Linked DNA regions of Homo sapiens: region 1 is linked to region 2. Evidence: fine-mapped expression QTL. A gene starts in region 2. The other region holds a variant in brackets. All regions are shown on one strand. Distances are between the middles of the regions. Region 1 overlaps ELOB (elongin B). Region 2 holds the start of SRRM2 (serine/arginine repetitive matrix 2).

Region 1 (4,000 bases), 22 kb before region 2:
CACCCTTCTTCGCAGGCCCATCGGAATCACGCTGTCCCCCCGGACACTCCTTCGGGTGGAGGGTGGGGAACTCAGTGAATGCAAAGAAAGTCAGGTCCCACTCGTTCTTCACCAAGCAACCGTTTGTTATTACCTCCCGACCTCCTGCTGATGTCCTAGAAGCCCCCCTTTCCCCTTGCAAACGAACTGAGATTATTCAGTCAGAATGGCTTGGGGTTTGGGGTCTGCATTGGGGAGTCAGATGCATCAGCCTCTGATTTACGTCTCCCAACATTGTGAGGTTGTCGCCCAAGTGCATTGTTCAGATTCTAGAGCTGGAAACTGGGAAACTGACTTTTAGCTCCAGGCTCAGAGCCTCAGCTCCCATGGTCTCTAAAGGCCTTTCCTCACTCATAACTACTGGGACTTAGCAAATATTAAATGACCGTGCCTGTGCATGTCCCGTGTGCCACATGTCTACTTAGTGCTTTATGTTTCTTCCTAGCTCATTGAAACCCTCTGGTGGCCCTACGAATTGAGAATTCTGGTAATTCCTAGTTTACAGATGAGGAAACTTTGCATCAAAAGGCTCAACTACCAGCCAGCCGTGGTGGCATGGTCCTGTAGTCCCAGCTACTCTGAAGGCTGAGGCAGGAGAATTGCTTGAGCCCAGGAGTTCCAAGCTGGAGGGGGCTATGATAGCGCTTATGTTGGGTCTGTGCCACTGCATGCCTGGGCAACATAGCGAGACCCTGTCTCTAAAATAAAAAAATGTTCAAATGCCTAGTCCAGGGTGACAGAGCTGGGATTGAAAGCCAGGTCTGCCTATCTCCAGATAGCTCAGTGGCTCCTCAAATTAGATTTGCCTGGAGAATTTGGATAAAACCGGATTCTAAAGTCCCACCCTGGGAGGTTTTGATTTAGAAGTTCTTGGATATAACCCTGGAATCTGTGTATTTGTCAAGCAGCGTGGTGGTCCTGGGCCACACTGAGGGAACTCTCTCTTCCCTCCTCTGACTTCCCGTGTAGTTGCTGGTCAGAAGTCTTTGGGACTTGCCCCATGTAGGGCCTCTCCCAAGATCCTGCTTCTCTCCTCAGGATGACCAACTCTTGGATGATGGCAAGACACTGGGCGAGTGTGGCTTCACCAGTCAAACAGCACGGCCACAGGCCCCAGCCACAGTGGGGCTGGCCTTCCGGGCAGGTGAGAGGCCCACCACCCACTGGGCTGGGTGGTAGCCAAGCAGGTTGGGAACACTGTTCCAAAGAAGGTCATCAGGGAGCCTGGAGTTGAAGCCTTCAGGGCAGTGTCTTCCTCGTGCCTAAAGGGCTGGCAATATCCTTTCACAATGTGTTTGTTTCCTCATTTTTTTTTTTTTAAAAAAGAAGCAACCAAATGAGATGCTTACAGAAACCAAAGCTTATTTTGTGAAGCCAGCTCACATTTACAGGAGGCTGAGTGAGTGCCTGGCTCCGTGCTCTGCATGTTACTCTGTGTGTGGCTTCCACTGCCCTGTCTCATCCTCTCAGTAGCCCTGGGAAGTCCACATACCATCATCCGTGTTCTGCAGATGAGGACACAGGCTTACCAGCAGTCACGTAGGGAGCCACGGTTAGGATGCTGACTGCCGGGCCCTTGCTGGAGTCAGACATCATACCAGGCTCTATGCTATGTATCACCGAAACCCTCTGCATCTCTGTGTGGCTGAGATTTGGATTTTGCCA[G/C]TTTTCAGGTTCAGTAAAGTGAGCCTGGGGAGGTTAGGTCATCTGCTGGGACTGCCACATCTAGGATTCAGATCCAGAGCCTGGGCTTCCATCAGCCATACCCCACCCCTGCCCAAGCTTTAGAAACCTGGGGATTAGGGAGTGGTTTACTACTCGCCAAGATATCTTCTTCCACCCAAGAGAAAGGGAGGGGAGATTTAAAATATTTTGTCTCTAGGAACTTGAAGAGAGGTTATAGAGCTGTGTTTTCACAGCTGTGGACCCAGCAGCTGTGTGGATGGCTGAGAAAACTTGGATAAAGTTGTAAGGAATTCTTATTTTTCTGCCTGTAAGGGAACATAGCAAAGGCTGAAGAGGAAGAGTAGAGTCCTAGCTCCACCTTTCCGTTCCATAAGTTCAGGCTAGGCCTCAGTCTCAGCAGCTATATCCTCTGGCCAGCTACCTTGCCCTCCTGCCCCTCCTGGCCCCAGTGTTCCCTTCTCCTTAAAGGGGTGTGATGAGACTGGCTTCACAGCAAGGTGGTGTTGAGTCCTCATGCACCCCAGGTCTGGCCTGCTGCCAGTGCCCAACAGATGGGAAGCTTCAGAGCCTTTCTGTGGGCTCTTTCTGCCCAGATGGTGATGTTAAGAGTCAGGTGCAGGGCTGGCATAGACACAGGTCGTGCCTTGTACATGGGTGCATTTTTGTTGTTGTTGTTTCTGAGACAGAGTCGCACTCCGTTGTCTAGGCTGGAGTGCAGTGGCGCCATCTCAGCCCACTGCAGCCGCTGCCTCCCGGGTTCAAGCGATTCTCTTGCCTCAGTGGCCTGAGGAGCTGGGATTACAGGCATGTGCCACCACGCCCAGCTAATCTTTGTGTTTTTAGTAGAGATGGGGTTTCACCATGTTAGTCAGGCTGGTCTCAATCTCCTGACCTCAGGCGATCCATACATCCCAGCCTCCCAAAGTGCTGGGATTACAGGCCTGAGCCTCGGTGCCTGGCCCAGGGGTGCCTGTCTGAAGAGAGCAAGGGAGTGCCAAGAGCATATCTGGTCTGCTTCGTGAACCGAAGCTGGGCTGTGTTCCCCCAGAAGTGTCCCTTTCTCTAATTTCAACAGTGGTACCCCTAGAGGTTTGCTGTGACTTGGAAGATACTGATAGACCCATTTTGCAGATGAGAAAATCAAGGCTAAGGAAGGTGACTTGTTTTTCTCCCACAACCCCTAATATGGCATGGAATGTGGTGGTGACTCCGGAGCCCAGGTCACATCATCCCTCTTGCAGGTGATGGCTGTCTTGATAGGGGGCACAGCATGGGCTGTCAGCTCTTTGCTTCCCCATGGAATGCTTGCAGAAACACACTTCTGGGTGCAGCTCAACCCATCATCATGTTGTTCCCAGGCCTTGAATGGGTGCCCCACCCTCCGCCTCTCCCCTCCCCCAAGCTTACCACTCAAGGAGATGAGTATTTCAAATCAAATGTTAAAGGGCATTGTCCCGGCTCATCACAAAAGAATGAGGGAGGTAGTGAAGGCACGAATTGTCACAGGTTTGTGGCTTGGAAGATGGATTAGTTTCTGAACCTCGGCACAGTGGGCACATTGGGCTGGATTGCTGTGTGGGTTGCCTTGTGCACCATAGCACGTGGAGCCGTATCCCAGGCCTCTACCCACTAGATAGCGCTGGGGCACCCCACCTCCCCATTTGTGACCGCCACAACTGTGATCAGGCATTCCAGCTTTCCCTGGGATGCCTGATCAGTTGAGAACCCTGAGCCAAGCAGAGATGGGTCTCCTAGCTGGAAGAAAGCACAGGAGAAAAGCTGTGGGTTTGTTTGCTGTGTGTTGGGGTGACAGTAGGGACAAGACAGGGAAGGCCTTTGCCTTCCTGGAGCCAGTCAAAAGGGCAGTTTGTCCAGTGGTAAGTGCCCCTACGCCCAGAGTGTCAGGATGTCTTGACTTTTGGGGGTGCGTGGACTGGAGGTTCATCTGAGGAGGTGACCTGAGTTGGACCCTGAAAGTCCAGAAGCAGCCAGCCATTCCGAGTGCTGGGACCAGCAAGTGCGAAGGTCTGAGTTAGGAAAGAACTTACAGAAGAACATAGAGAGCCAGAGCCTCAGAGCGTGGGAAGCAGAGGGAGAGACAGACGGCAAGGACTTGGTGGTATTCAGGTCATGATGGGAAGCCACTGGATGGTTTTCAGCAGGGGAGGAATAGTCTAGATAGTCTAGTTTGATTTTTTTTTTTTGAGATGGAGTCTGTGTCGCCCAGGTTGGAGTGCAGTGGCGCGATCTCAGCTACTGCAAGCTCCGCCTCCCG
Region 2 (4,515 bases):
TTTTCTCTCTCAGCCCTGCCTCTTCCTTCTCTCCTGTGTTAACCCCATGCCTCCTCCCAGGTTCTAGCCTTTCAACTTGTCCCAACCCTAACGTGATTCTGAAAAATTCTCAAGTCCCAGCTTTCCTGGTTAGATTCCTTGGCTACACATACTCTATTCCTTTCTCCTATTACATATACTCTCTTTCTCACCCTCATCCTCTCCAAGATAGTTTCCTAGAACATGCATATATGAGAAAATACTACTAAGAAAAAACCCTAAGGAATACGTAAAGCGGAGAGAGTAATCAAAGATGTAAAAGAACTGGATAGAAGGGAAGGATGCATTTAGAAAATTCCAGAATGAAGAAGCATCATACAAATGTTTGGAAAAATATACTAGCGCATGCGCCTAAGGATGGGTCCCTACCCAAGCCCAGTAGCAGACCCAATATTGAAAGCAGAAGGTGACAGAAGAGGCTAAACCTGGATAAGGCAAGCAGAAATCCAGGAAAAAATGAAAAACTGTATGGCTCAAAAAATCAATTTCTCTACACCCCAATCCTCATTTTCATCTTCTAGTACCAATCCTCCTCACGGTTTAAAACTAGGTCCTTCTTCGCCTCTCCCCTACCCCACTTAATTTCTGCTTCCCCTGCAGCATGTTTTTGACCTGCACTTAATTCTTCAGCTTAACCATTCACCCACACTTCCATACCACCTCACACAAAAATCCCCCCACTCCTTAAGAAAGGAAAACCAGGCCGGGTACGGTGGCTCACGCCTGTAACACCTGCACTTTGGGAGGCCGAGGTGGGCGGATCACCAGATCAGGAGATTGACACCAGCCTGGCCAACACGGTGAAACTCCATCTCTACCAAAAATACAAAAATTAGCTGGGCGGCGGCGATTGCCTGTAATCTCAGCAACTCCAGAGGCTGAAGCAGGAGAATCGCTTGAACCCGGGAGGCGGAAGGTTGCAGTGAGCCGAGATCGCGCCACTGCACTCCGGCCTGCCAACAGAGCTAGACTCCGTCTCGGAAAAAAAAAAAAAAGAAAAACCAGTAGGTGCTAAGCAAAGGATATTAGGTCACAATGTTTCGGAGAACTTTTAGGGAATGAGCCACCTAGTCCACCCCACAAAAAAAGACGACGACCCCACGGCATCTAAGGGGTGTGTTAAGACACAGAAAGTAGGAAGATCAACACCACACACAAATCACCAAACCAAACGATATTACAAAACTCTTAAAGTGGGGGCCATAGACAGTGGATATGCAAAAGTTACCCAAGTTAAAAGCAGAAAGTAAAAAGTACAAAGGAAGACAAAAACACCCTTTTCTGTTGGGAAATTATCCGAGTGGTAAGCTAACAATGAAGTAGAAAGATATATTTGAATTCAACAGTAAAATATGCAAAAAAGAAAACGGTACCAAAAGGGGAGAAAAAGGGGAGACAAGGGTTGTCGAAAAAAATGGACATCAGCAAGCACAGCCAGCTCAGCACCGGGGCGCTCCAGAGCGGCTGAGTGGACACAAAGAACCCAGAAAGCTAAAATAGTAGCTTTAGAAGAGCCCTAAGCCCACGCACTTAGGATGAAAGACAACACAACACTCTGAAATTCTGATCCAGATTCGTCCTAACTGAAGCCGAGTGGAAACCAAGCTTCAGAAGAGCTGTGTGCCAAAGAACGCCTGAAACCAACCAGAAAACTTATATATGAGTCTGGCGTTTTCTTCCCAACGAAGGTCTCCAAAAGCCTCCTTAGTTTGAACACGAATTCTCGGGAGACGTTGAAAAAGTGTAAAAAGGGAACGCACGGTCTACCTTACAAATGTAAACTGAACACGTTCACTTTCTTCACAGTTTTTAAGATTTGGGGTTTCTCCCCGCCACTAACAACTCAAAGGCTGATAGCCGGGAATCCTAAACCATTTAAATCCGGCCCACGAAGTTCAAGGCCCTCCCCGCAGCGCCGGGGGCCTATTTTCGGCCTTGCGGAATGGGGGAGGGGGCTGCGCGGCGTCCCGCAGTCTGGGAGGCCCCCGACACGGGCAGCCCAACGCCGAAGAGAAGCCCGAGGAAAGGAGATCTGGAACCGGGGGCAAGGGTCCAGGAGCAAGCCCCCCGCCGCCGCCCCTTCCCCGCCACTTAAGGGCCGAAAACGGCAGCTGCAGGAAGGCCACCTCGGCGGCACATGTTGGGGGGAGGAGTGAAGCCGAGGCGCGCGCCCTCCCCCCTCACCAAGGGCGCTCGCGAACCCGAGTACAGGCGGCTGCGAACGCCGTTGTCATGGGGGAGGGGCGGGGGGGGGTGAAGCCCGCGCGCGACAGGAACGGCGGGAAGGGGGAAGGGAGGCGAGGGCGTCCGCGCCAGCGAAGGGCGTCGAGCGCGCGTGCGCGCGGAGGAGCTCGGCGGCCTGGGCAGTTCTCCGCGCGCTTTGGCCTCGCGCCGGGGCCGCCGCCCCTCCCCCACCCGGCTCGCTGGCTCCCTCACCCTCTCACCCGCCGCCTCCGCCCGCCGCCTCCGAGGGGGAGAGGTCTTGCCGCCGCCGCTGCTCGAGCTCCCGAGTCCCTCGGGCCTGGGGCCGCCGCCTCGCCTCGCCGGTCCGCCCGCCTCAGCCGACGCCGACGCCTCCTCGCTTCCTCAGGGGCCGCAACGGGCTCCAACTGCGCCACTCGCACCCCGCCTGGGCCGCGCTGCACGTCAGCACGACTAACTGCGTGCGTCAGCACGCAAACGCGCGTCGCGGGGCCTGCCGGGAACTGGAGTGCGCCCCGCGGCCTTTTGCGCAGGCGCCGAAGCCACACCGCGAAGTACCGTTTTTTCAGGCACAAGGAAGGTTTCACCCCGTTGCCGAAAGACTAAGCGTCCCGTTGGCCAGTGCAACGAAGAACGGAGGAAGCGACGTAAGACACCGCGTATTCGTAGGCCTTCCGCTGCGGGGAGGAGCACAGGGCCTAGCGGCAGCAAAGCGACGCCCGAGCGCGTCTCGTCTCCCGCTGTCGATGCAGAGCATTCTGGGAGTTGTGGTTCGGGCGTGTCGCGGAGCCCGGATGTAATTTCGGCTCGGGGCGTGGCGGCCATTTTGTCTCCCCATGTTGGGAGACGATATCCCAGCCGCGGTGGTGCTGCCGCTTTCGTGTGACTTTGGGTTTCCCGAGCGAGCCCGCAGCTGCACAGCAGTCCGCCTTCCCGTACCCGAGAGAAGCCGCCTCAGACCCCAGCCAGCGGGCACCCCCGGAGGCCCCGAGCCTGGCTGCAGGCCCTAGACCTGCACCAGGGGCCCAACCAGTTACCCGTAGCATGGGCCACGTTCTCCCGCTGTAGACCGGGCTGAGGCCCGACGGCCACCCCTGGGGGAGGAGTTTTCTTAGCTTCCGGTAGGGCAGCCAGGCCGGGGTCCCACCAGACCCAGGACGTGATACCGGTGAAGCGGCACATACAGGAACAAGGCAGGAGGAAAATAATAAGCACCTTAAAGTTTCCACTTTTCGGTACCGTACTTCCTGTTAATGTTTCTAAGCCCGTGATTCTGGGCCTGATAATCAGCCAGCCGTCCTCACAGCAGAGTTGTAAGACGCTGGGCTGCTCAAGCACAAGTTCATATCTAGACCCACCGCTGGCGAGCAGCCCTGGACGTCCCGCTTAGCTGTCCTAACCAACTCAGGTGGCCTTGATCCGCAACAGGACGCGGTACCACGTAATGAACTGTCCATTTGAGTGCAAGGATTTATATTTGTTATTACGATTTGGGGGTGTTTTTAAGAGGCAGGGTTTTGCCCAGGCTGTTCTCGAATTTGGGGCTCAAGCGATCCTCCGACCTCAGCCTCCCAAGTAGCTGGGACTACCCGTGCATGACACCCTATCTGGCCCTTGTTTTTTGTTGTTGTTGTTGTTCTTTCTTTTTTCACGTGGTTTCGCACTTGTCACCCAGGCTGGAGTGCAATGGTGTGTTGTCGGCTCACTGCAACCTGTCTCTCAGGTTGAAGTGATTCTCGTGTCTCAGTCTTCCGAGTAGCTGGGATTACAGGCGTGTGCCACCACGCCTGGCTAATTTTTGTATTTTTAGTAAAGACGGGGCTTCACTATATTGGTCAGGCTGGTCTCGATTTCCTGACCTCAGGTGATCTGCCCACCTCAGCCTCCCAAAGTGCTGATATTACAGGCGTGAGCCACCACGCCCGGCCCGTATCCGGCTTTAAGATTTGTTTTTCACTTGCCCGTGGGAGGATGTACTTATCTCAGATGCTAGAGCCGGGAGACCCTCCCCCCCACCACCCCCATCTCCTGCAGGAGCTCTGATCGCAGATTGGAGTGTCTGAACTCTGCATCTATGGACGGTGCTTCTGTAAGCCGGCCGCAACTCTGGAGTGGCATAGTAAAGTGGCAAAGGCTTTGCCTTTCTGGTTAAAGACCCCAGCACCTCCAGTGAGACCCTTTCCTGTACCCCCACTGATATTCTTTATGGAATGTTTTGTGCGTGAGTCAGCACATTTAATGCCCGTGAATAGTGACAAAACATGGTTTGCAGTA

The links. PIP is the estimated chance that this variant, and not a neighbour inherited with it, causes the effect.
Region 1: its variant is the best candidate, but not a certain one, in a credible set for the expression of SRRM2 in whole blood (TOPMed, PIP 0.54).

The regions. Positions count from the first base shown.
Region 1 is chr16:2,772,634-2,776,633 of GRCh38, reverse strand. It overlaps ELOB (elongin B), which reads left to right. Exons shown (of 4, transcript NM_007108.4): 3 at 1,078-1,183. Among named protein-coding and RNA genes, the nearest start is that of ELOB, 2.6 kb to the left of the region's middle. RefSeq lists a silencer at 3,413-3,565. The variant G/C (reference allele first, on the strand shown) is at 1,705.
Region 2 is chr16:2,750,815-2,755,329 of GRCh38, reverse strand. It overlaps SRRM2 (serine/arginine repetitive matrix 2), which reads right to left and starts at 2,692. Exons shown (of 15, transcript NM_016333.4): 1 at 2,484-2,692. It overlaps SRRM2-AS1 (SRRM2 antisense RNA 1), which reads left to right and starts at 2,730. Exons shown (of 6, transcript NR_027275.1): 1 at 2,730-2,888. RefSeq lists enhancers at 1,284-2,126, 2,127-2,969, 2,851-3,140, 3,201-3,370, 2,970-3,812 and silencers at 2,281-2,340, 2,361-2,670.